4 linked regions of the Homo sapiens genome follow. The protein of the gene in region 2 interacts with the protein of the main gene of each other region in a biochemical or structural test. Each region holds a gene or a part of one and is shown on either strand. Other genes may lie near its edges.

The links.
Region 1: the proteins of UBE2N (region 2) and AURKA form a complex in vitro, tested with the Homo sapiens proteins (3 studies listed by BioGRID, with this or other methods).
Region 3: the proteins of UBE2N (region 2) and TRIM5 form a complex in vitro, tested with the Homo sapiens proteins (2 studies listed by BioGRID, with this or other methods).
Region 4: the proteins of UBE2N (region 2) and ZNRF1 form a complex in vitro, tested with the Homo sapiens proteins (3 studies listed by BioGRID, with this or other methods).

The regions. Positions count from the first base shown.
Region 1 is NC_000020.11:56,375,209-56,382,239, reverse strand, and holds part of AURKA (aurora kinase A), read left to right. Parts: intron 1-668; coding exon 669-807; intron 808-7,031. UniProt on the Homo sapiens protein: Mitotic serine/threonine kinase that contributes to the regulation of cell cycle progression.
Region 2 is NC_000012.12:93,431,934-93,438,964, reverse strand, and holds part of UBE2N (ubiquitin-conjugating enzyme E2 N), read left to right. Parts: intron 1-7,031. UniProt on the Homo sapiens protein: The UBE2V1-UBE2N and UBE2V2-UBE2N heterodimers catalyze the synthesis of non-canonical 'Lys-63'-linked polyubiquitin chains. This type of polyubiquitination does not lead to protein degradation by the proteasome.
Region 3 is NC_000011.10:5,662,681-5,668,091, reverse strand, and holds the end of TRIM5 (tripartite motif-containing protein 5), read left to right. Parts: coding exon of another isoform or gene 1-193; exon of another isoform or gene 194-374; intron 375-380; coding exon 381-403; intron 404-2,010; coding exon 2,011-2,111; intron 2,112-2,409; coding exon 2,410-2,436; coding exon of another isoform or gene 2,437-2,585; exon of another isoform or gene 2,586-2,696; coding exon 2,697-3,283; 3' UTR 3,284-3,918; coding exon of another isoform or gene 3,919-4,057; 3' UTR 4,058-4,897; downstream 4,898-5,411.
Region 4 is NC_000016.10:74,994,744-75,002,036, reverse strand, and holds the start of ZNRF1 (E3 ubiquitin-protein ligase ZNRF1), read right to left. Parts: upstream 3,014-7,293; 5' UTR 2,366-3,013; coding exon 1,942-2,365; intron 1-1,941. UniProt on the Homo sapiens protein: E3 ubiquitin-protein ligase that plays a role in different processes including cell differentiation, receptor recycling or regulation of inflammation. Mediates the ubiquitination of AKT1 and GLUL, thereby playing a role in neuron cells differentiation.

The sequences.
Region 1 (7,031 bases), on a different chromosome or scaffold from region 2:
TTTTATCTGTCACAGTGTCTGGGTGTCAAACTACTGTGGCAATGCCATGTCCTTTTTTTTTTTCCTTTTTTTTTTTGAGATGGAGTCTCGCTCTGTTGCCCAGACTGGAGTGCAGTGGCGCAATCTCAGCTCACTGCAACCTCTGCCTCCCAGGTTAAAGCGATTCTCCTGCCTCAGCCTCCTGAGTAGCTAGGATTGCAGGCATGCACCAACAAGCCTAGCTAATTTTTGTATTTTTAGTAGAGACGAGGTTTCACCATGTTGGCCAGGCTGGTCTTGAACTCCTGACCTCGCGATCCTCCCGCCTCGGCCTCCCAAAGTGCTGGGATTACAGGCGTGAGCCACTGTGCCCGGCCATGTCCTTTTTTTAATATGTAGATAATTAATATTCAGCTGAATTTTCCTCCTAAGAATAAAGGTGCCTAAAGGAAGGAAATAGTCTTAACTAAACCAGAGGTCCATTAATACTGTGAAGTGCTTTTAAAATGATATGTGGGTGTATGTATTTTTCTTGGAGTGGGTTTATAGTTTCAGATTCTAAAGTGGGGTTTGGAGTGTGGTTTCATGTGAAACACCACTGGTTTTACATGAAGAGTTTGTTTGACATTTTGTACATAGTCTTCTGTGAGCTCCAAACCAAGTGTTAGAATGTTTATCCTTTGTTGCAGGCATCCTAATATTCTTAGACTGTATGGTTATTTCCATGATGCTACCAGAGTCTACCTAATTCTGGAATATGCACCACTTGGAACAGTTTATAGAGAACTTCAGAAACTTTCAAAGTTTGATGAGCAGAGAACTGCTACTGTAAGTGTTCATTTATTGTCCAGGCTAATTGTGTTTCCTTTATACCTGTCCTCCATAGCAATGTACCTTTCATCATAGTAGAGTGGGTTTTGTCTTGACGTAAGGATAGCTTAATATCAAATATTTGAAGTGGAAAAATCAAAATAGCTTAGTTGTACCATATGTACAGATAAAGTCTAGAACCAGGTAGAATGTTGTATCTGCTTTTGTGCCTAGTTTGCACAGCTGTTTTCTATGGAAATGTATATAATGTATATAGATAGTCACCCTCATTTTCTTTAATAGATGTTTTATTTTAGAATAATTTTTATTTTATTTTATTTTTTTTAAAGGGACAGGGTCTTGTTATGTTGCCCAGGCTGGACTCAAGTGATTCTCCACCTCAGCCTCCCGAGTAGCTGGGACTACAGGTGCACACCATTGTACCTGGCTAGGATAGTTTTAGATTTACAGAAATTGTGAAGGCAGTACAGAGAGTTCCCATATACCCCACACTGAATTTCCTACTAATTCTCCTACTAACATCTTGCATTAATATGGCACATTTGTCACATTCAATGAACCAATATTGATATATAACTATTAACTCAAGTCCACATTTTATTCAGATTTTCTTAGTTTTTCTCATGATTAAATTGGGCTTATGGGTTTTTGAGAGGGAGATCAGAGGTAAAGTGCATTCTTATCACATACCAGGGATGTAAACTCTTATGACTTTTAACTGTGGATGTCAGCTTGATCTTCTGACTCAGAGAGTGTTTGTCTGGTTTCTCCACTGTAAAGTTACTATTTTTTCCCCTTTCCGTGCTGTATTTCTTCAAAGGAAGTTACTATGAATAGCCCACACTTAAGGAGTAGAGAGTGGATGGAGTATTGCCATAAATTATCTGGAATTCTGTGCCAGAGATAAGGCTGTTCTCCCTTATTTATTTAATCATTTATTTATTTAAAGATGTAGACTCCTGGGTATTTATTTTATCTCTTGAGCTATAATGCAATACTTTATTTTGTGGTTCAGATCATTGCAACTTTGGCCACTGGGAACTTTTTTTCTTTCTTTTTTTTTTTTTTTCTTTTTGAGACGGAGTCTCACTCTGTCGCCCAGGCTGGAGTGCAGTGGCGCTATCTTGGCTCACTGCAACCTCAGCCTCCCAGGTTGAAGCGATTCTTCTGCCTCAGCCTCCCAAGTAGCTGGAAGTACAGGCACCCACCACCACACCTGGCTAATTTTTGTATTTTTAGTAGAGACGGGGTTTCACCATATTGGCCAGGCTGGTCTTGAACTCCTGACCTTGTGATCCACCCACCTCAGCCTCCCAAAGTGCTGGGATTACAGGCATGAGCCACCGTGCCCGGCCTGCTCTTTTTGTTTTACCAGGTTCCTGGGAAAATCATTGCAGTTTTGTCTTGCGTGTGTGTGGTTTTTTTTTGGTTTGTTTTTACACTTCCTTTTTTTTTTTTTCTTTTTTTGAGATGGAATCTCACTCTGTCGCCCAGGCTGGAGTGCAGTGGCATAATCTTGGCTCACTGCAGCCTTCACCTCCTGGGTTCAAGCGATTCTCCTGCCTCAGCCTCCTGAGTAGCTAGGATTAACAGGCATGCACCACCACACCCGGCTCATTTTTGTATTTTTAGTAGAGATGGGGTTTTGCCATGTTGGCCAGGCTGGTCTCTAACCCCTGACCTCAGGTAATCTGCCCGCCTCAGCCTCCCAAAGTGCTAGGATTACAGGTGTGAGCCACCACGCCTGGCCTTGTACTTCCTTACTTTCTGATACAAGATGCTCAGGCCTCATCGTGTATATTTCCTGCTCCAGTCCTAGAATCGAACCACTTCTCCAAGGAGCCCTGTTTCCTTTTCTTGGAGAATGTTATTAGAAACCAAGCTCTGGGCACTTGGTGTACTCATTGCTACTATGGTGTCACTACTTTTAGGCTTTCAGCTGACACAGCAAGGGAATATATGTGGATAGTAATCTGTGTATAGATTTATCCATCTATCTCTTCATTAAGCATACCATGAATTCATACTGATGTCTTCAACTTGAATCCATTACCACGTTTCATTCTAACTTCCTCCTGTTTACCTGTAAACTCCCACTCCAAAAGTGTGAAACCTGGATTTCACCGCCCACCATCCTTTTACTTATTCAATTCCAATATACATGTATAATGGTATCAGAATTGTTAACCAGCTGCCACGTGGGAACCAACTTTATCAATTAGAGTGCTTATGTGCACTTCCTTTGGCCTTTGTCTTATAGATTCCACTCATTTCCAAAGCTGCTTGGATCAACACTTTACCCTCATGCCCTTTAGTAAGGTGGTTTCCTACATTTGTAATGCAATGAGATTTTTTTGTCACAATCTGCATGCCCAGGATGGAATCATTTACATTTTCATATCCTGAGATTGATTTTTGTGTGTTTGCTGTAAAGTTCTATGAATTTCGACAAATACACAATGCCATGTATCCACCATTATGATATAGAGAATAGTTTCGCTGCTCTTAAGAAAAAAAAAATCCTGTGTCTCAACTACTCATCCCTTCCAACCCTTCCATCTCTGGCAACCACTGATCTGTTTACTGTCTCTATTGCCTTTTCCAGAATATCATGTAATTGGAATCATAACAGTATGTAGCTTTTTTAGGTGGGCTTCTTCCACTTAGCAATATGCATTGAAGATTCATCTGTGTATTTTTGGAGGCATGAGAGCTTGTTCATTTCTGTTTATCACAAAATCATATTCCATTATTTCATTATATGGAAGTACCTCAGTTTATTCGTCTACTGAAGGGTATCTTGGCTGCTTCTGGTTTTTGGCAGTTATCATGTTTTGGCTGTCAACATTTGCATGCAGGTTTTTGCGAAACAAGTCTTCAAATTAGTTGGGCACATATATAGGAGTGCTATTGCCAGCTCATACGGTAAGACTATATTTTGCTTTGTGAGGAACTGTCAGTCTTCCAAAGTGATTTTTACATTATATTTTACATTGCATTACAAATGTAGGAAATCACCTTACTAAAGGGCATGAGGGTAAAGTGTTGATCCAAGCAGCTTTGGAGATGAGTGGAGTCTATAAGACAAAGGCCAAAGGAAGTGCACATAAGCACTCTAATTGATAAAGTTGGTTTCCGTGGGGCAGCTGGTTAACAATTCTGATACCATTATACAACGGTAATGTGGTATCGGAACCAATGAATTGAGGTCCTCTTGCTTCTCATAGTTGCCAACATTTGATGTCAGTGTTTTGGATTTTTGTTTGTTTGTTTTGAGACAAGGTCTCACTGTCGCCCAGACTGGAGTGCAATGGCATGATCACCCACCTCAAACTCCCTGGCTCAAGCAATCCTCCCATCTCAGCCTCCCAAGTAGCTAGGACTACAGGCATGTGCTCTCGTGCCTGGCTAATTTTTGTATTTTTTTGTAGAGACAAGGTTTTGCCTTGTTGCCCAGGTCGGTTTCGAAATCCTGGTCTCAAGTAATTCATGCCTCCCAAAATATTGGGATTACAGGAGTGAGCCACTATACCTGGCCTCTTGTTTTGCATTTTAGTTATTCTAATCGGCATGTGGTGGTATCTCATTGTTTTGATTTCTAGTTTCCTAATGACATTTGATGTTGAACGTCTCTTTTTTTTTTTGAGACGGAGTCTCGCTCTGTCACCAGGCTAGAGTGTAGTGGTGCGATTTTGGCTCACTGCAACCTCCGCCTCTTGGGTTCAAGCGATTCTCCTGCCTCAGACTCCTGAGTAGCTGGGACTACAGGCACGTGCCACCATGCCCAGCTAATTTTTGTACTTTTAGTAGAGATGGGGTTTCGCCATGTTGGCCAGGATGGTCTTGATCTCTTGACCTTGTGATCCACCTGCCTCGGCCTCCCAAAGTGCTGGGATTATAGGCGTGAGCCACTGCGCCCGGCCTTGAACATCTTTTTATGTGTTTATTTGCCATCTGTGTATCGTCTTTGAGGCACCTGTTGAAATCTTTTGCTCTTTTTTTTTTTGAGTTTTGAGTTTTAAGAGTTCTTTGTATATTTTGGATGCAGGTCATCTGTCACACATGTTTTGCAAATATTTTCTCCCAATCCGTGCCTTGTATTTTTGTTCTCTTATCTGTGTCTTTCACAAGGCTGTTTTTTATTTATTTTTTTGAGAAAGGGTTTCACTCTGTCAGCCAGGCTGGGGTGCAGTGGTGCGATCTCTGCTCACTGCAGCCTCTGCCTGTTGAGCTCAAGTGATCCTCCTGAGTAGGTGAGACTACAGGTGGGTACCACCACGCCCAGCTAATTTTTGTATTTTTTGTATAGACACGGTCTCATCATGTTGCCCAGGTTGTTTTTTTTGAGGCATTCTTGCTTTGTCACCCAGGCTGGAGGGCAGTGACGTGATCTTGGTTCTCAGCTCACTGCAACTTCTACCTCCTGTGTTCAAGCAGTTCTCCTGCCTCAGCCTCCTGAGTAGCTGGGATTACAGGCATGAGCCACCACGCCCAGCTAATTTTTGTATTTTTAGTAGAGACAGGGTTTCATCATGTTGGCCAGTCTGGTCTTGAACTCCTGACCTCAGGTGATTTGCCCACCTCGGCCTCCCAGAGTGTTGGGATTGCAGGCATGAGCCACTGTACCCGGCCTCCCAGGCTGTATTTTTAATAAAAGTCCAAATGTGTCAGTTTTTTCTTTCATGATTGTGCTTTTTTGCTTCTCCTTTTTTATGTGATTAAAATTACTTGTTTTAAGAAGTTGAAGAGTCTTAGTTTGGGCCGTTTCTTATTGGATTGGCAGCTTGATAAAGCATGTTGAATGGTGGTTACTTTGATTTTTTTCTGTTTCTTGGTGGAGATCTCCGGGTAGTGTGGACATTAGTTCTCTTTTTGGCATTGATGTAAATGGCATTTAAATTCAAGTAATTTTACTTTCAGTATCTGATGAAATCATGCTACTATGGACAAATGGCTCTTTGGTCTTGTCTCTGCAACAATGACATGCTGTTTTAAAGACTTAATCTTAAATGTTTGTGCTTCTCCTAAGTAGAAATAGATCTCTAATTTGCTTTTTTAAATATTAGCTAAACAAATCAGCTTCTTATTTAATTGGCAATTAATATTTCTTTGAGTTCATCTTTTGGGCCAACTTTCTCTTACAGATCAATAAGTAAATCTATGCTCATTAATGGTAGTGACTCTACCTCAGGTACTCACATTTTACCCTTGGTTTTTTTCCTGGTAATCTTGCTTATGGTGGGTTGTAGTTTGTTGTTTCAGGTCAGTTAATCTTTTTCTTCAGTTTCTGATATTGATATCCTACTTTAAAAGATTCACCTTATACCAACACTACAAAATTACACATTATACTACTTCTCTGTTTTCTCTCCTTACACCCAAGGCTTCAATCTAGATGGAGTTTTGGTGTAAGCAGATAGCTGTTTGAAAGAAAATGAAAGATCATTTCTGTCTAGATTCCTTAGCAGTTAGAATGAATACACATGTACCTGTTTTCCTTTTCAGATGAATTCAAATAAAACTAATTGTAGTGACATGTCAGTGACCTATCCATATCTGCAATCTAACAACATGTGAGGTGTGGAGGAAGTGGCAGTGCCAGAGGGCTATCATGAAACTAATAGCTTCTTGTCTGGAAGTGATTTGAGGAGTGAAATCCATTGCCCTCTCAAACTTTAATGTGTGCAATTAAAGCATCAGCAACTCAAAGTTGGTGGTCAGAAGAGCAGCTTTCTTTGTATTTGCCTTCAGTTTATTGTGGTCTGAATTTTGATCTCCGGTTTTGGGCTGAAAGAATGAAAAGTGTTTATTCTGACAGTGACATTTGGTTTTTACTCATCTGTTTAGTAAACCTTTTTGATGTAAAATAATGTTCAATCCTGTCTAGAAATTGCTGTAGAAAGCAAACTCTTCTCAAACTTTAGGCAGAGCTAAATATATTTTTTCAATATTCAAACAGTTATCTGTATGTTAAAATAAATTCTGGGCCAGGCATGGTAGCTCACGCTTGTAATCTCAGCACTTGGAGAGGCCAAGGTGGGAGGATCACTTGAGGTCAGGAATTAGCGACCAGCGTAGGCAACATGGGGAGACTGTCTCTACAAAAAAAAAAAAAAAAAAAAGAAAGATTAAAAATTAGCTGGGCATGGTGGCACACACCTGTAGTCCCAGCTACTCGGAAGGAGGCTGAGGTGGGAGGATTGCTTACGGCCAGGAGTTCA
Region 2 (7,031 bases):
TAAGGTAAAGCTGGTAAGAGGCAGAATTTGGATCTTGATTAGTGTAACATTCCCCTGTCTCTTGTTACTGTAAAATGACTAACTACAAATACAAGATGATTTTCTGGACTACTATTCACCCAGTTGCTATCTCATTTAGATTCCTGTATCTAATCCAGTAGCAAATTCTGTAGGTTCTGCTTTCAATATATGTACTAAATCAGACACTTTCCCCCCTGTCTTTCAAACCTCTGTTCACTTCCATCATTTACTGCCTGGCCTCCTGTATTAGCCTACTTTGGAGCAGCAGCTAGTGTTATCTTCTTAAAATATAGACCATGTTACTCCCCTGCTAAAAACTGTAGAGGTTCTCCATCACACTTACATTAGAATCTTGCCTTCCCCCCCACCCCTTAGCTATAAGGCCCTGCATTCATTTGGGATGCCTACTTCTGAGCGCATCTGCACTTCTCTCTCTGGGTCACTCCACTGTAGCCACACTGTTGCTTTGCTGTACCCTGAACAATAAGTGGTTGAGCTTATTCCAGTCACAGGACTTTCCTCCAGTTTGTTGCATTGCTTGCTTTGTCCAGTTGTTCCGTTCTTAGCTCATATGTCATACCCTCTACCTAACCTGTCCCGTATAAACCAGTTTCCCTTTTTCCTCCCCCACAATTTTATCCTCCTATCTCCCTTTCTTCTGTATAAGTGCTTATTACTGTTCGAAGTTATGTTATTTACTGTTTATTTCTCTCTATTCCCCATTAAACCTTCATGAAGTTAGGGACTCTTGGATATCCCGGGCATTGCTCATTCGTGCCTAGACCAATCCTTGGCACATAGTAGATACTGAAATATTAATAGACTAACTGAATAGATGAGCCTTAATCTCAATGAGCAATAATTTGACATTGTTACTCCTTGGTATATTCTGTCTGAACCAATGTCTGAGCTAAAAGTTAAAGCTAGTCTCGTTTTCCACCCATAAGCTCACTTAAAAAGGACATCAATCTTTTACATTATTTCTTTTTTGTGTGCCTACTCTGCTTATGTATCTTTTTTTATTAACTAGGAAATGCACACATAGAGCACATTTGAAAGGCTCTGAAGGATACGTAGAGAATCCCTCATCTGTCCTTCAGCATTCCAGTTCCCCTGCTTAGAAAACCACTGTTTTTGTTTGTTTGTTTGTTTGTTGAGACGGAGTCTCCCCCTGTTGCCCAGGCTGGAGTGCAGTGGTGCAATTTTGGCTCACTGCAAACTCCACCTCCCAGGTTCAAGTGATTCTCCTGCCTCAGTCTCTTAAGTAGCTGAGACTGCAGGCATGTGCCACCACACCTGGCTAATTTTTAGTAGAGATGGGGTTTCACCATGTTGGCCATGCTGGTCTCAAACTCCTCTTCTCAAGTGATCCACCTGCCTCAGCCTCCCAAAGTGCTAGGATTACAGGTGTGAGCCACTGCACCCGACTTCAACCACTATTTTTATTGTGTATCCTTACAAGAAGACCAGAGCAACTTTCTGCTATAAGTTAGGCGTCTTCTCCTTCTCATGCAAATACCTTGATTCCCTTCTCTTCCCCTCTAACCACCTATGTATCTTCAAGTTGACTTTTTTTTTTTTTTAAGAGACAGACTGCTGCTTTGTTGCCCAGGCTGGAGTGCAGTGGCTTTTCACAGGCGTGATCATAGTACACTATATACATACAGCCTCGAATTCCTAATATCAGGTGATCTCTACCTTCAGCCTCCAGTATCTGGGATTACAGACATGCATCATAGTGTTCTGCTTTGGCTCTTTTTTTTTTCTCAAAGGGCTGTTTAATGGAACCTTATGGTTAGACTTTATTTTATTTTTTCAAATATTGGAAATTTAATACTTTTTCAGTAGAGATGGGGTCTTGCCATGTTGCCTAGGCTGTTCTCGAGCTCCTAGGCTCAAGTGATTCTTCCACCTCGGCCTCCCAAAGTGCTAGGGTTAACAGGCATGAACCACCGTGCCTGGCCTAGACTTTATTGTAACTAATTGCTTATTCATAACTTTCAGAATGTTTCCTAAATTGTGCTATATAAAAAATGCTGTAACGAAGTTTTGTATGTATGGCATTTTGCACAAGTGTGAGTGATATTGAGTCTTAGTAGTTCTGTTTTAAGCTAGAATCTTTAGTTTCGTTTTTCTGCCTTATCTTCTGGACCAAAGCTCTTTTAGCCAATAAAAGTGACTGAAGCTGGGCATGGTGGTTCACACCTGTAATAACAGCTCTTTGGGAGACTGAGGCCCAAGGATTGCTTGAAGCCAGGAGTTGAGACCAGCCTGAGGAACATAGTGAGATCTCCATCTCCACCAAAAAAAAAAAAGTGAGCAGTTAAAGCTTAAAGTCATAAAGGTTAGGAGGTACCTAAAATGTCCCTCAAATGAGAGGTTCTGCATAATCCTGTCATAAAGGAGAATCACTTTCGGGAACCGATAAGTGAGATCTATAGTTATGGCCTTGGTCAAAACCAAATCTGTTTCAGCTTTACATGTTACGTTGATACAGTGACTGACATTCCTTTAATGGTCTTTTCAGAATTAATCATGAGGGCTGAGCACTGTGGCTCATGCCTATAATCTCAGTACTTTGGGAGGCTGAGGCGGGAGGATCCCCTGAGCCCAAGGTTTCAAGACTGGGCTGTACAACATAATGAGACCTTGTCTCTACAAAAAGATAAAATGAAAATTAGCCAGGTGTTGTGGCACACATCTGTAGTCCCAGCTACTCAGGAGACAGGTGGGAGGATTGGTTTGGCCCAGGAAGTTGAGGCTGCAGTGAGCCTAGATCGCGCCACTGCACTCCAGCCTGGGCGACAGAGTGAAACCCTGTCTCAAAATAGTAATAATGATAATAATGAAAATGATAAAATACAGTCTTGGGAAAAAGTAGTTAACTTACCCTAGGGGTTGACTTATTTGATTAAAACCTAGTGAGTCAACCTGCTGGAATTAGAATTTTACCAGTCTTTCGCAGAATTTACTTTATGTCTCCCTTCCCCACTGGTCCCTTGTCTATGGTGCTTAAAAATTTACTTAAGAAAATACATTTAATTAATTTTTTGAAACAGGGTCTCTGTCACCCAGGCTGAAGTGCAGTGGAAAAATTTACTCTTCTATTTGGTGTGATTTAGCCTCAAATTCTTAAAAATCAGATACAGTCTGATTTTACATTGAGACTTGAGTTTACTTTTTTAATAGGATTTTTTGAAGTACACACATTTTTTCCTGTTACTGTTTAAAAGCCACTCATTTGATAGGTATTCTAGTGCATAAGGTATTTTTTTTTGTAAGAAAAGTGATTTAGAAAACTCACCTTTTATTTATTTGAGACGGGAGTCTTGCTTTGTTGCCCAGCCTGGAGTGCAATGGCACAATCTCGGCTTACTACAACCTCTGCCTCCCAGGTTCAAGCAGTTCTCCTGCCTCAGCCACTGGAGTAGCTTTACTCTCTGCCTTGAACATTTTTTTTTTCTTATTTTGAGATGAAGTTTTGCTTTTGTTGCCCAGGCTGGAGTGCAATGGCGTGATCTCGGCTAACTGCAACCTCTGCCCCCTGGGTTCAAGCAATTCTCCTGCCTCAGCCTCCCTAGTAGCTGGGATTACAGGTGTATGCCACCACGCCCAGCTGATTTTTGTATTTTTAGTAGAGGCAGGGTTTCACCATGTTGGTCAGGCTGGTCTCGAACTCCTGACCTTTGGTGATCTGCCCACCTCGGCCTCCCAAAGTGCTGGAACTACAGGTGTGAGTCACCGCGCCTGTCCTATCTGTTGTTTTAAGCTCTGAAAATACTTGTCTGATAATGTTTTCTTCCAATTAAAAAAAGGCATGGAAAAGTTACCATGATGTTTCAGAAATATATGTACCTCCAGGTGGGGGCAGGGAAACTTAGCCAGGTATGGTGGTTCATGCAGTAATCCTAACAGAAGACTGAGGCAGGAAGATCCCTTGAATCCAGGAGGCCGGGGCTGCAGTGAGCTATTAGTGGCACCACTGCACCCCAGCCTGGGTAATAGAGGCAAGACCCTGTCTCTTAAATAAATAAATAAATAAATAAATAAATACAAACTCATTATGATGAAGACAGATTTGTTATAAGTTGTAATTAAAATCACCTTTGGAATTTAAGAAAAAACTTGTAAAAAATTTGACTAGGAACAGTGGTTCTTTAGTTCTTTCAGTTGTCTCACTTAAGAATTTTCTGACCTCTTCCTAGGAAAAAAAGCTATTTTTTTTAACGTATGACTTCTGGGGATTCAGATTCTTGCCAAGTTTATTTGTGGATTCCCTAGGTCTCCATGTGCTCCATGTTAAGAATCCTTGAACTGCTTTTGATAGTGATTAAACTTTCAGGCTCTAAAGATACTGTTTTAATATACTATCTAATGTTTTGATTATGAAATGTGAGCATAACTGAAAGTAAGTTAAAAATAGCAGTCAGTTCAGTATTCTTTTTTAAGCTCCTCTGTGTCAAGCAGTTCCTTTAGTCCAGATTGATCAACTCCTGCACAAGTGAAATTAAGTTTTGTCAAATTATCAAGTACTTTAGTATTCACTGTGCTAAATGACTGTGACTGGAAATGTTATGCATTTGCTTTGCTCAAGTTTGGAATTTTTTCCACACGTGTTAATGACCACTCTTAAAACCAGAGTTTTTTTTTGTTGAGACGGAGTCTCGCTCTGTCGCCAGGCTGGAGTGCAGTGGCACGAACTCGGCTAACTGCAATCTCCACCTCCCAGGTTCAAGCGATTCTCCTGCCTCAGCCTCCCGAGTAGCTGGAATTACAGGCACGCGCCACCACACCCAGCTAATTTTTTTTTATTTTTAGTAGAGACGGGTTTCACCATGTTGGCCAGGATGGTTTCAATCTCCTGACCTCGTGATCCACCCACCTCGGCCTCCTAAAGTGCTGGGACTACGGGAGTGAGCCACCAGAGTTTTACACATTAGAGAACATCTGTTCTATCCTTTTCTTTCTCTGGTGAGGAATTTGTAGGCCAAAGAAGTTGGATGACCAGATTCCTGATGTACAATTCGGTTCTTCTTCTTTTTTCCCTATACCTTATAGGATAGTTTACCTGTGTAAATGGATTTAAGAAGAAAATATGCTACAGATTCAAGTTGTATGGATTCTGAACACACATTATGTTTTCTGTTATAATGAACTATGGATGCATATGTGCTATAGAAATAAATACTAGAAACAAGGAAATGAGGACAGCAGCATCCAGCAGGGGCTTTTGACATTACAATTATAGTAATCAGAGTTCTGATTTAGGTGCCAAATTCGTATCTTATACAGTGCTGCTTTCTAAAAACAAAATAAATATGAGAGGCATAGTTTATGTAATAATATTATATCAAGGAAAAGAATTCTTATGTGTGTATGCGAAAAACGAGTTGGACTGTTGTTTCATTAGAGTTGAAATTTTCTTTGCAAATGTAATATATGAAGGAATGAATGTGGATATACCAATTAGGCAATTAAATAATAGGGAATCTTTTAACTTCAGCTAAAATCTTAGCAGCTTTTAAAATTTCTTCCCAAGTGAAGTGATTGATGGCCCTAGGGTCTTTTGTGGCAGAAACATGACTGTGTGGTTGGAAGAACTGGATAATTGGTTAAGAGCCCTCAGAATCAACAGAAATACTTCATTATTATTCATTCTTTCAAGGGCTACATGACACCATTGGGGGCATTTTATATTTTTTAAAAATCCTGGCCAGGCGCGGTGGCTCACGCCTGTAATCCCAGCACTTTGGGAGGCCGAGGCAGGAGGATCACAAGGTCAGGAGATCGAGACCATCCTGGCTAACATGGTGAAACCCCGTCTCTACTAAAAATACAAAAAAATTAGCTGGGCGTGGTGGTGGGTGCCTGTAGTCCCAGCTAGTCGGGAGGCTGAGGCAGGAGAATGGTGTGAACCCGGGAGCAGCAGAGCTTGCAGTGAGCGGAGATCACCCCACTGCACTCCAGCCTGGGCAACAGAGCAAGACTCCGTCTCAAAAAAAAAAAAAAACCTGAATGAAGCTATTCTAAAATTTCTTGAGTACTTAGGCACAGACATTTTTGGTTTTGAATTGGCCAGTAACTGAGATGCTTCTGAATAATTAGGATTCTACTGTAATTTAAAGTAATTTTAGATACTGGTTTCAGAATCTAAGGTTGACATATTTTGCATTAAAACAACTGGCTATGTTGTCTTTAGATTTTCAATTTTTTTTTTAGTTTTCAATACCTTCACATTATGTCTCTGTCAGTTTGGTTAATTTTGGGCAAATGAATTTATATTTTGAAAGTCTTTACAGTTCTAGGGATTGAAGGCATTGTAGTTAAGGAAACACTAGAAAGAACTAACAAATTTATATCATGAAACCATTGGTGATTTTTTTATTGCTCTGTAACTTTCTTAAGATTATAGCTTATACTCGGGAAAATGTTAGTAAGTAGCTGTTTTGTTTTGTTTTTTTTTTTTTGTGACTCTTAAAGACAACTAGATTACCATCTTACTATGAGGCAGGGACAAAGTGGTTTTAGTAACATAGGCCGATCCCAAGGCCAAATTTCAGTTTTCTGTAACCTTGTGATTTGCGTGTCTCTTTATTATCCATTCATGAGATTTTTTTTCAGTTCAATTAATTGGACATTCATTGAATGCATAATATGCATTTACCAGTAAGCCAGGTGAACAAGAAAGGCATCCCTGTGTAATGGAAAACACAGTCATGAAACAAATTTCTGTGGCCCAGGCTGGAATGCAGTGACGTGACTTGGCTCACTGCAACCTCTGCCTCCCGGGTTCAAGCAATTCTCCTGCCTCAGCCTCCTGAGTAGCTGGGATTACAGGTGCACGCCACCACACCCGGCTAATTTTGGTATTTTTAGTAGAGACAGGGTTTCACCATGTTGGTCAGGCTGGTCTCAAACTCCTGACCTCGTGATCCGCCCGCCTCAGCCTCCCAGAGTGCTGGGATTACAGGCAGGAGCCACCGCGCCCAGCCGAGGAAGTGTTTTTAAAC
Region 3 (5,411 bases), on a different chromosome or scaffold from region 2:
TCATGCTATGTTGCCTAGGCTGTACATCTGTTTAATAAATCAAAGAAGCACTAATTATTTAAATCATTTCATGGAGAGCCATATACGTTTGGAGAAAAACAAATTGTCAGTCACTTCTTTTCCTTCTAAACATGTCCCATCTGCAGAAACCAGGAGCCTCTTCCACAGGGATGAAAGCTATTTCTACTTTTAAGGGAACTTGGAAATCTCACATGAGTCTTCTGGGATGATTGCCTTGAGTCTTATCTTTGCTTTTTTGTCTTTCACACTGTCACCATCTCCATTCTCAGCACATTAGGAACCGGGGGAAATGTGATGAAGCTTTATAAGTGAGGAGAGACTCTTTCTTTCTTAATTGATGTTTTCTCTCTTCTTCCTAGGGTGTGGATGGCGTCATAAAAAGGTATGTGTGGGAGGACAGAGATGGTCCTTTTGTGCAGTGAGGAGAGATTTATAGCCATTAGAATTGTCCTGGGTTTAATTAGAATAAAACATCTCCCAGGGCAGAAAAATTTCGATATTGTTTTATCATAAATTTCTGGTCATAAATCAGCATTCGAATGTTCTATAACTATTAAGAATAGACCAGATTTGGCCAGGTGTGGTGGCTCAAGCCTATAATCCCAGCACTTTGGGACGCCGAGTCAGGAAGATCAGGAGTTTGAGACTAGCCTGGCCAACGTGGCAAAACCCTGTCTCTATCAAAAAAATACAAAAATTAGGGGGGCGTGGTGGCCCGTGCCTGTAATCCCAGCTATTCGGGAGGCTGAGGCAGGAGAATTGCTTGAATCCAGGAGGCAGAGGTTGCAGTGAGCCAAGACCATGCCACTGCACTCCAGTCTGGGCGACAAAGTGAGACTCTGTCTTAGAAAAATCAATAAAATTAAATAAAATTAAAAAAAAGAAAAGGAATAGACCAGATTCTATGGTAGAAAATTTGGGTGGTGGAGACTCGGAGTGTGGGTCAGTAGTGGTTTCAGGGAGAAGGTGTTGCAGTGTTGGACCCCTGCGCCATCACCATTTTATTACCTACATCTAGTTCTCTTTCTGTATTTAATAGGTTCTTGATTTATTTTGGATGGGCCATATCTTCTTTTTCTCTTATATACCCCTAATTGTCCATTGGGACAATTCCCACATGTTTATATTTTCCTCCTGGAAAAAGACCAGTTCCTCTTCATTTATATTTAGATTTCCAAAATCAGATGTTTATTTCCGGAATAATATTTCAAAATAATATTCTGGATAATATGTGGTCATGGTACAAAGAATTGATCCACCTCAGTTGCATTCTTTACAAGAGCATAAAAAGGTGCTATTCTTGTGTCTAAAATCGCACACCTCGCACACCTACGTGGTGGTATCAAGTTCTTTCTAACCACACGATATTCAGGCCAGTAATAGTTTAGTGCACATAATTTCTCATTTGCCAAGTGTTTGTAATTTTTCCCGGAAATCTGAAACCTTAGATGTTATCTGAGTACCTCCCTGCTGGGAATAGCTTTGAAGGTCTTAGGCCTCTCCAAACAGGATTCCTCTCTTGATATGTGTCAAACACCCAGGAGCCAGGTTCTGCAACCTCACTTTCTAACCATCTCCCTGGGAACTCAACATACATAGCGATGATGTTTCCACCCATTAAATGTTAGGGTTTCTTTTGTAAGGCACCAAAGTTTTGTTTTGTTTTGTTTTAAAATCCTTTTTTTTTTTTTTATGTCCTATGAGTTTAAGAATGTAGACAGGGAGAGGTTAATTATTTCATTTTAGAAGGAAGAAACTGTGCTTCTGAGAGGTTAAGATCTTCCCACGTTCTCACAGAAAGTAAGTGGGAAGGCAAACATGAGAACATTTTGTTTGCCTCCAGGGTCAAGAGTTTGCACTCTCCCTTCTCAGGATCCCCAAGAAGAGAGTTCAAGTGCCTCAATGGGTTGAAATGATAGGAAGTCAGGGGTGTTCCACGGACACAAGGTCAAAGGTTTGGAAGTTTTTTTTTTTTTTTTTAATTCTTAGGACGGAGAACGTGACCTTGAAGAAGCCAGAAACTTTTCCAAAAAATCAAAGGAGAGTGTTTCGAGCTCCTGATCTGAAAGGAATGCTAGAAGTGTTTAGAGGTGAGGAGAGCTAGATCAACAACAGGGTTATGGAATTCAAGTGGTGTTAGGGTGCTAAATAGGGAAGAGGGTGCAGTTTCCAAATATGGATAGAGGGGATAGGGGAGGATAGATATTGTCTGCTGCTGATGGGATTATATTTAATGGGAAATGGCTAGGTGGCTGTTTCATCTCATCATTCAGCAATTTACTGCCCTACCATAGGGCATACCTACTCTTTCCCTAATCTGGAGAGAAAATGAATTTCAGTGCTGACTCCTTTGTTTGTATTCAATATTGTGCATTTTTATCATTTCAGAGCTGACAGATGTCCGACGCTACTGGGGTAAGGAGAAGTCACATTATCATAAGCCACCCTGCGGCTTATCATTATTATTATCTTTATCTTTTAGAATTTTATGTTCTCTATTAGGCTCATGTTTTAAGATTTATGATTCTCCTTCCAAGACACACATAACTTACCCCTCCTTATAACTTCTAAACAAGGTTCCTCCCAGTTTTCTCTCAAGTCTTTATCAAGATTTCTCTCATATCACAAATAAAGTTACATTATATCCCTTAGCTGACCTGTTAATTTTTCTACAGTTGATGTGACAGTGGCTCCAAACAACATTTCATGTGCTGTCATTTCTGAAGATAAGAGACAAGTGAGCTCTCCGAAACCACAGATAATATATGGGGCACGAGGGACAAGATACCAGACATTTGTGAATTTCAATTATTGTACTGGCATCCTGGGCTCTCAAAGTATCACATCAGGGAAACATTACTGGGAGGTAGACGTGTCCAAGAAAACTGCTTGGATCCTGGGGGTATGTGCTGGCTTCCAACCTGATGCAATGTGTAATATTGAAAAAAATGAAAATTATCAACCTAAATACGGCTACTGGGTTATAGGGTTAGAGGAAGGAGTTAAATGTAGTGCTTTCCAGGATAGTTCCTTCCATACTCCTTCTGTTCCTTTCATTGTGCCCCTCTCTGTGATTATTTGTCCTGATCGTGTTGGAGTTTTCCTAGACTATGAGGCTTGCACTGTCTCATTCTTCAATATCACAAACCATGGATTTCTCATCTATAAGTTTTCTCACTGTTCTTTTTCTCAGCCTGTATTTCCATATTTAAATCCTAGAAAATGTGGAGTCCCCATGACTCTGTGCTCACCAAGCTCTTGAACCTTCTTACACACTCAGCCCCTTCTGTACAGCACCTCTTGTCCAGGTGCATCTCATACACCTGAACTCATTTGCATCATTTTAACCATCTTTTCCTTGCTGTCTCCCTTCTTTCTATTTGAACGTCCTTCACTCATCAGTAAAATGTAATAATTGCCTTGTGCCATATTGTCCCCAATATTTTATTGACATTTGATAGCAATTTTTTTCATCATTTTCCGTACTCCTAAGGAAAACTGACCTATACCTCATAAAATGAGACCGCTATTTAGGTATTACTTCTGCCAGATATTTATCACCCAATTGCCTCTGACACTGACTAAGAAGATGAAGAAAAGCTTTTCAACAGCCTTTCTATATCATCGTGTGATAATTGTTCACCAATGAATGAGTCCTTAGCCCTGTGTCAGTTTACCCTCGATGCCCTTATTTGTGAGTTAAAGAGAAAATATCATAAATGGTATACTCTTAAGTATAGAGGTTTTGTATCTAGAGGATCTCAGTTCAACTCCTGTCTCTCCATATACCAGCAGTGTAACTGTGAATAACATACTTAAATGGCTGTGCTTATTTCCTTTTCTTTTCTTTTTTCTTTTTTTTTTTTTTTGAGATGAAGTTTTGCTCTTGTTCCCCAGGCTGGAGTGCAATGGCACGATCTCGGTTCACTGCAACCTCCACCTCTCAGATTCAAGCAATTCTCCTGCCTCAGCCTCCCAAGTAGCTGGGATTACAGGTGCCCACCACCACCCCTGGCTAAATTTGTATTTTCAGTAGAGACGGGGTTTCCCCATGTTGGTTAGGCTCGTCTAGAACCTCTGACCTCAGGTGATCCACCCGCCTCGGCCTCCCAAAGTGCTGGGATTACAGGCGTGAGCCACGGCGCCCAGCCTGTGCTTATTTTCTTAAAATAATTTTTGTATTAAAAACTTCACATTAAATAAGTGCTAATGTTTTATTGCATAGTAGGGTGACTAGAGTTAACAATAACCTATTGCATATATTTTGAAATAGCTAGAAGAGAGGATTTTGAAAGTTCTCAACACAAAGAAATGACACATATTTGAGGTGATGGATATGCTAATTACCCTGGTTCGGTTATTACGCAATGTATACATGTATCAAAACATCACACTGTACCACATAAATATGTATATTTATTATTTGTCAATTAAAAGCAAAATAAAACAAAAAACCTTCATCTAATACTTTGGATCATTGTGAAAAAATAAATTCCTGAAGTATAAAGCATCTATCTAAGTGTCTTGATCTAATAAGTACTTGTTCTACAAATTATTGAAAAACATAAACTCTGTTAATGTCTCATGGAACAGGTTGTGCCTTCAGGGAAACTAGGATTGGATTTACTAAATTCTCATTTTTTAGATCTCAGATACTACTGTCAAAATGACTTCAATTCTGCCTTCTATATATAATACACACATATATTTAGGATTTTATTGTAATTCTAGTGTTGCTACATATTAGTCTTTATCAAACAAACTGAATTATGTGGGAATCAGTTTATTAATTGTAAAAAATAATTATAATAAAATTAGCTGATGTAGTTTTTTAAAAGTTAAACGAGTTTTTTGAATAGCTTCACTCATTTCTAGCATGTAAGGGGTAATCCATTATGGTGTTGGGCTTTTTTGTTTGTTTGTTTGTTTGTTTGTTTGTTTGTTTTGAGACAGGGTTTGTCTCTGTCACCCAAGCTGGAGTGCAATGGCACGATCTCGGCTCACTGCAACCTCCATCTCCAGGGTTCATCCTTCCACCTCAGCCTCCTGAGTAGCTGGGACTACAGTCACGCACCACCACGCCCTGGTTATTTTTTGTATTTTTGGTAGAGACAGGGTTTCACTATGTTGCCCAGGCGGATCCCGAAGCCCTGGGCTCAGGCGATCTGCCCACTTTACCTCCCAAAGTGCTAGGATTATAGGTGTGAGCCACCATGCCCGGCCTCATTATGGTGTCTATTAATTTTTGGTTCCCTCTCACTGTGACTGAAAGCAATAATTTTTAACAATATGTAATAGTTCTTTTCAAAATTATCTTTCTCCCTTCGTTTGAAGAAATACAAGAACTAAGTTAAAAATCACAGATTTTTCTTGTAGAAAGTTTTAAAATA
Region 4 (7,293 bases), on a different chromosome or scaffold from region 2:
GGTCCTACACAGTAAGGAATGGATTACCTACAATATTAATAGCAGCCTCCCATACACACTTTTGACACCCTTCCCTAAAGGATTAATATGCTCCAACCTTCCTGTCCCCACAGTTCAGTGGCTCTCCCTACCCTCACCATGATCGGATGAAAAAAAATAAGGTTTCACAGCTTAAGAGTGAAATTCTGGAATCCAACTACAAGCTCATAACTGTAGCATGGAACCTGGTAGTAGCATAATAAATAAATTTTTAGTAAGAGGCTTAAGAAATTTTAGCAAAAAAAGCACTCCCTTTCTTCCTCCCTACATATCTCATATGTTTTTCAACACAAAAAATTCTGTGATTTTAGAGAAACTTCTTACAGTACTTTTAAGTTCAAAACCAGATGCTCATTACAGTTCTTTTAAACACCAAACTAGTCATCTCAAAAATATGGCTAACTCTCTGGACTAAATTCCATAGGAAAAATTATTAATTTCAAAATGCCTAATTTTGATCAAATGCCTGAAAGAGCCAAAGGCAATCATGTCCTGCTTCTCACTCAGGGCAGAGTTCCATGAGGTCAGAAAAGCTCCAATGATATCCGGAGGTCTGTCAGAGATTAAAATATCATCCTAACAATTCACAAGCTACTTCTAAGTGTTACCCTAAATTAGTCACTAATCGTTTCTCCCCCAACACTATTTCACAAATTAAAGTTTACAGAATTGACAAAAAACCAAACCAAATGAAAACAAACCCCAGGCTATTTGCAGGGGGGGGGAAAGAGATACCCCAAAAGTCAACCCTATTTCACAGTAGTTAAAAGAGTGATCCAACAGATATTACCCTCCATAAAGTACCCTAAAGGCAGGAGCAATCTTTCCCCTACACTATCTAAATTTTCCCAACTCACCCAAAAGAATCTTAAGATGTAACTTCATCACTCAACTTGCCAATTAGCAAATAGCGGCCCCCACATCCCTTTTGGCCAATTTTCTAGATGCCTGACCTAGCAGACAGACCTGTTTTCCTCCTGCCAGGCCTTTTTTGCCCTCCCGCTAGGAGCCTGGGAAATCCCCCTCCAACCTTTTGCTGGCCTGTCACCAGAAGTTCATAAAATGAATTCATCCAGATTCTCTGAATCCTCCTTTTCCCCAGTCATGTGCCAACAGCCAGGCAATAATGCCCCACCGTGACAGGCTCCCTGTTACAAAAAGATGCAGATTCACGGGAAGACCAAGCACTTAGCATGGAGCAGAAGAAAAAAAGATGGAGGGAGGCGAGAGTCGCGGAGCCAAGCCTGCTGCATGCAGTACGGGTGACCACAGCCCGGGTCCTGCAAAGCCCCCGCGAGACTCGCCGGCTGGGCCCTCCGTACAGCAGCCACACCTGTCTATGCCAGCCGCCTGCCGGCTGCTCCATTTTAAACATTTCAAACAGATCTCCAGCAGGGTGGCAAAACTGGGCACCTCTCTCTCCCAGCAAGAGTGAGAGCCCTAATCCAGGCATCACTTGCCCCTGATTTTATTTCATTTTCACACACTCTGTTTAGGAGACACTGCTTGCTCCAACTGGCTCCATCTCTCCGTTACCGGTGAGGCAGGCACAGTGCTGCAGTGGCAGAATGGAAGTACCCAGGCTGACTTGCTCTCAGCCAGACACGACCTCTTCTCTGAGGAGGGTGATGCCAATAAATGGAACTCCAATAGGTAGGCTTCGCTCTGCCCTTCCACAAGTGAACACACGCCGTGAGTCCCTAAATCGCCAGGCTCCGCAGCCTCGCAGAAAGCCTAGTTTCCAGACGGTAGGTATCCCATTTATCCCTTGGCATCGGGAACCAAAGGGAATGCAGACAGATCCCGGTCGTGCACTACATTCCCAAACCTTGGCACGCACGCGAAGGCTTGGGGCGCCCCGGCGCGCCCTCCCTCCGAGGCCTCCACCACCCGCGGACTCACCACTATGCGAGCTGAACCACCTGGGTGCGATGTGCAGAGGTAGAGCATCCGCCAGCGAGGCTCGGGAGCCCAGGTACAGCATCCCGTCTCTATGGTGACCGCCGCCCGTCTCCTGGTAACCATTGCCATGGGCATAGGTGGAGTCGGACGCAGACCCTCCGCCGCCGGGCGCCCTCTCGGAGTCGCCGGTGCCCCGGGAGGCGGGGGTGTAGAGGCCAAAGGGCACCCCCCCGGCCGTGCTGGGGTCCATGCCCATGCCTGCCACCGAGCTGACCGAGCGGCTGCGCAGCCCCATGGCCCCGCCGCCCGTCCGGTAGTGCCCGAAATGGGGCGCCCCTCCCGGCGGCGGCACGGCGCTGTCATCGGTGGAGACCCCCGGGAAGGGGCCCCGGGAGCGGGCCGCCGTGCTCTGCTTGCCCCCCATGCTCGCCCGGGCCCCGGTGGGGCGGGAACCTGGAGGCCGAGACCCTCCCCCACTTCTCAGCAGCAGGGGGAGGGCTGGGCGAGCATAAAGGGGGAGGGAGTCAAAAAGGAGACCCGGAGGGAGAAAAGGAAAAAAAGCAAAAGGAAAAAAGGAAAAAACCCGCGGGGCGGAAGAGGCAGGCGGGCGGGCGGGGATCCCAAACTCAGAATTTCAAACGATCCAAGGCAAACGCATGTTTCCCCTCAAGGTCCAAAGAGGCGCAGTCCGGCGCGGGCTCCGCGCGCCACAGGCCGCCCCCGGGCTCCGAAAGCCGGGGGAGCCGCAGGGAAGGAGGGAGGGAGGCGGCGGCGAGCGGCGGGCGGGCGCGGGGAGGCGCCGGAGGAGGCCGCCCGCCCCGCGGGAGGAGGCGGAGGAGGGCCGGGGGCGCCGGGCGCGTCCCCCGCCTCAGGACGCCGCGACCATGGACGGCGGCCCGGACCCCTCCAGGCCTCGGGCGGGCCGCGGCGCTGGGCGGCCAGGCGCAGCTCGGGAAGCCGCGGTCGCGTCGCGTCGCGCTCTCGCTTCAGCCGCCGCCGGCCCCGCCAGCCGCGCCGCCCCGCTCGGTCCCGGGCTGCGCTCGCCGGCGCTCCTCGCCGCCGTGGAGACAATGGAGGGCGGCAGAGCGCAGGCGCGGCCCGCGCCCCCTCCCCCTCCCCCCGCCGGGTTAACCCTTTCGCGGTCCCTGCGGCGCCTGGGCCGCTGACGCCCCAGCAGTCCCCACCCACCGCCCGCCCCCGGCCGGCCTGTGACCTGGGCGGCCTGACCACTGGGCGTTAGCCACAGAAACCAGATGTCTTTCAAAAGCAAACACTTCTTAAGTCCCCGAAAGTGGCAAATTATTCAGGGGGAACCAAGTATGGGGGAGGGGCAGCAATGGTTCGAGGGGGTGGGAAGGAAACACCGGGAAGAAGGAGATTTACTCCTTACGCCTACCTGGCTCTGAGGGTCACCGGTCGAGCTCCCCTCCTGGCACAAATTTGCCCCCACAGCACCCTCTGGTGGACGTGATGTCCATTCTTTCGGGGGTTCCCCATCCAAGCACCCCTCACGTCCGGAATCTCAACATTTGGCGGGGTTTAGTTATTTGGGGGTAAACAGCGCCATGGGGACACTTGTGAATCCGGCGTTTTGCTGACACTAGATCATAACTTCCTATTTTGGGCTTAAGCAAATGAGTAGATTCCTTAGCTAAAATGTAATTTTCAGAATCAATAGATGTACCATAAAAAGTGAATAGATATGGGTATGGAAATAGAACAACGCAGCTAGAAGTGATTATAGAAACCTTCTGTCCAAGGCTGGAGCCCTGTTTTGTTTACCATGTGCTGTGTTTCGGCCCTCACCACGGGCCAAGGACACGGTGGGTACTCAATAGGTGTATTGTTGACCAAGCCTGAATCATTTGCAAGGGAGTGTTCCTTTGCTACCTCAAGCCGTCTTTCTCCTATATTCACATTCATTTATTGAACAACTGTTTTTTTTGTTTTGTTTTGTTTTTGTTTTTGAGACGTAATCTCGCCCTGTCACCCAGGCTGGAGTGGTGTGGCGTAACCTCGGCTCACCGCAACCTCCGCCTCCCGGATTCAAGTGATTCTCCTGCCTCAGCCTCCCGAGTAGCTGGGATTACAGGCACATGCCACACTGCACCTGGCTAATTTTTTGTATTTTTAGTAGAGGCGGGGTTTCACCGTATTGGCCAGGCTGGTCTTGAACTCCTGACCTCAGGTAATCCACCTGCCTTGGCCTCCCAAAGTGTTAGGATTACAGGCATGAGCCACCGCGCCCGCCCTGTTTTTCTTTTTCTTTTTTTTCTTTTCTTTTTTTTTTTTTTTGAGACGGAGCCTTGCTCCTCCCAGGCTGGACAACCTCCGCCTTCCAGGTTCAAGTGATTCTTCTGCCTCAGCCTCCCGAGTAAAAGTCTGTTAAAAATTTCAAAATCAGGCCGGGCACGGTGGCTCATGCTTGTAATTCCAGCACTGTGGGAGGCTGGGGGTGGGGGGGTGGGGGGAGATGGGGCAGGGGATCACCTGAGGTTAGGAGTTTGCAACCAGCCTGACCAACATGGTGAAACCTCATTTCTACTAAAAAAAAATGAAAATAAAAAATAAATAAATTAGCCAGGTGTGGTAGCTCACGCCTGTGATCCCAGCTACTTGGGTAGCTGAGGCAGGAGAATGGCTTGAACCCGCGAGACAGAGGTTGCAATGGGCTGAGATCGCGTCACTGCACTCCAGACTGGGCAACAGAACGAGACTGTCTCAAAATATACATATGATATATATATATGTGTATATACATACATATATAGTAGAGATGGGAGTTTCCCCATGTTGTCCAGGCCGGTACTCCTGGCCTCAAGCAGTCCTCCCACTTCGGCTTCACAAAGTGCTGGGATTACATCATGAGCCACTGTGACTGCTGAACAACTATTTATCAAGTGCTAGGTGCTGGCTGTGAGTATCACACAGTCCCTGGCTTAGCTGACTTCCACCTATTAAATGACCCCAGATACTTCTAAACTGGGGGACCAAAACAGGATGTTCAGAAATATTAAAAGAAAACCAAAAAGAGCAAGGCTAGCCCGTCACAGGTATTGATTGTTCCATTGTGGCCAGCCTGGAAACAGGAGGAAACCTATTTGCAAGCATGAAATACCTGGAGGTGAGCAAACAGCCCTGTAGAAGTAAGAATTTTTGCAAGAGAAGTAAAAATAGGAAGAAACAAAATGTGCCAACATCTAATAAATTATCTGTAGGTGCCTATATGAGTATGTGTATACCTAAAGAGGAAAAACAAGAAAGCTTAAATTTAATCCCATTTCCTCCTAGAAGAAAGACTATGGTATCAGAAGAGTGGTTCAGTACTATACTAAAAAAAAAAAAGGTATTAGACCCCGTGGAAGATCCCTATTAGAGAGATAAATACATGATACCCATTGTAACTATCCAAACAGCTTTTGATTTATCCATTCACTGAACAGTTTTTTAGTGTATTTAACACAATATTTAGTATGTAATAAATTCCAGGCACTGTAGTAGGTTCTGGGATACAGTACTGAACCAGAACCAGACAGATGGAGTCCCTGTTCTCATAGAACATCAGAAGAAACACTTCCCACCCACTTGAATGGCTATGATCAAAGAGAAGGGCAATAGTAAGTATTGATGAGAGGTGGAGAAATTGGAACCCTTGTACCTTGCTGGTGGAAATGTAAAATGGTGCAGCTGCTTTGGAAAACAGCCTGACAGTTCCTCAAAAAGATTAAATGTGGAGTTACATGACCCAGCAATTCTGCTCCTACCTAGGTAGAGTTCCAAGAGAAAGCAAAACATATGTCTGCAGAAAAATGTGTACGTAAATGTTCATAGCAGCATTATTCAAAAGAGCTAAAAAGTGGAAACAACCCAAATGCTCATCAACTGATGAAGAGGTAAACCAAATGTGGTGTATCTATACAATGAAATATTATTCAGCCATGAAAAGGAATAAAGTACTGATTCATATTACAACATGGATGAATCTTGTAAAAGCATATTAACTAAAAGAAGCCAGCCATAAAAGACTATGTATTGTATGATTTCACTTATATGAAATGTCCAGAATAGGCAAATCCATTGAGACAGATTGATTAGTGGTTGCCATGGCCTGGGGGGAGGGGAGAATGGAAAATGACTAATAATAGGTCTCTTTCTATTTTTTCTTTTTTTCCTTTTTTTTTTTTTTGAGACGGAGTCTTGCTCTGTTACCCAAGCTGGGGCACAGTGGCATGATCTCGGCTCACTGCAACCCCTACCTCCACCTCCCAGGTTCAAGTGATTCTTCTGCCTCAGCCTCCCAAGTAGCTGGGATTACAGGCATGCGCCACCATGCCACGCTAAATTTTTTTTTTTTTTAAGACGGTGTCTTGATCTGTTCTCACCCAGGCTGGAGTGCAGTGGTGCAATCTTCACTGCAACCTCCGCCTCCCGGGTTCAAGCGATTCTCCAGCCTCAGCCTCCTGAGTAGTTGGGATTACAGGCGCGCGCCACCACACCCGGCTAATTTTTGTATTTTTAGTAGAGATGGGGTTTCACCATGTTTGGTCAGGCTTGTATCAAATTCCTGACCTCGTGATTCATCCGCCTTGGCCTCCCAAAGTGCTGGGATTACAGGCATGAGCCACTGTGCCTGGCCACTAATTATTTTTTGAGACAAGTCTTGCTCTGTCGCCCAGGCTGGAGTGCATTGGCATGAACTTGGCTCACTGCAACCTCTACCTCATGGGTTCAAGTGATTCTCCTGCCTCAGCCTCCCTAGTAGCTCGGATAACAGGCACGTGGCATCATAACCAGCTAATTTTTGTATTTTTAGTAGAGACGGGGTTTCACCATGTTGGCCAGGCTGGTCTTGAACTCCTGACCTCAGATGATCCACCTGCCTCAGCCTCCCAGAGTGGCTGGGATTACAGGCTTGAGCCACTGCACCTAGCCTCTTTCTGTTATGTATTTATTTGTTATTTATTATTTTTTAATTGTGTGGTTACAAAGTGGTGTCTTTCTGTTTTATGCATTTACTTATTTAGAGACAGAGTCTCACTCTGTCACCCAGGCTGGAGTGCAGTGGTATGATCTCAGCTCACTGCAACCTCTGCCTCCGGGTTCAAACAATTCTCACGCCTCAGCCTCCTGAGTAGCTGGGATTACAGGTATGTGCCACCATGCCTAGCTAATTTTTTTTTTTCTTTTTTGTAGAGATGAGGTTTCACTATGTTGGCCAGGCTGGTCTTGAACTCCTGGCCTCAAGCGATCCACCCGCCTTGGCCTCTCAAAGTGCTGGGATTACAGCCATGAGCCACCACACCTGGCCTTGTTTTTTTAAATCACATTTTTTGGTAATTGAATGGATTTCTT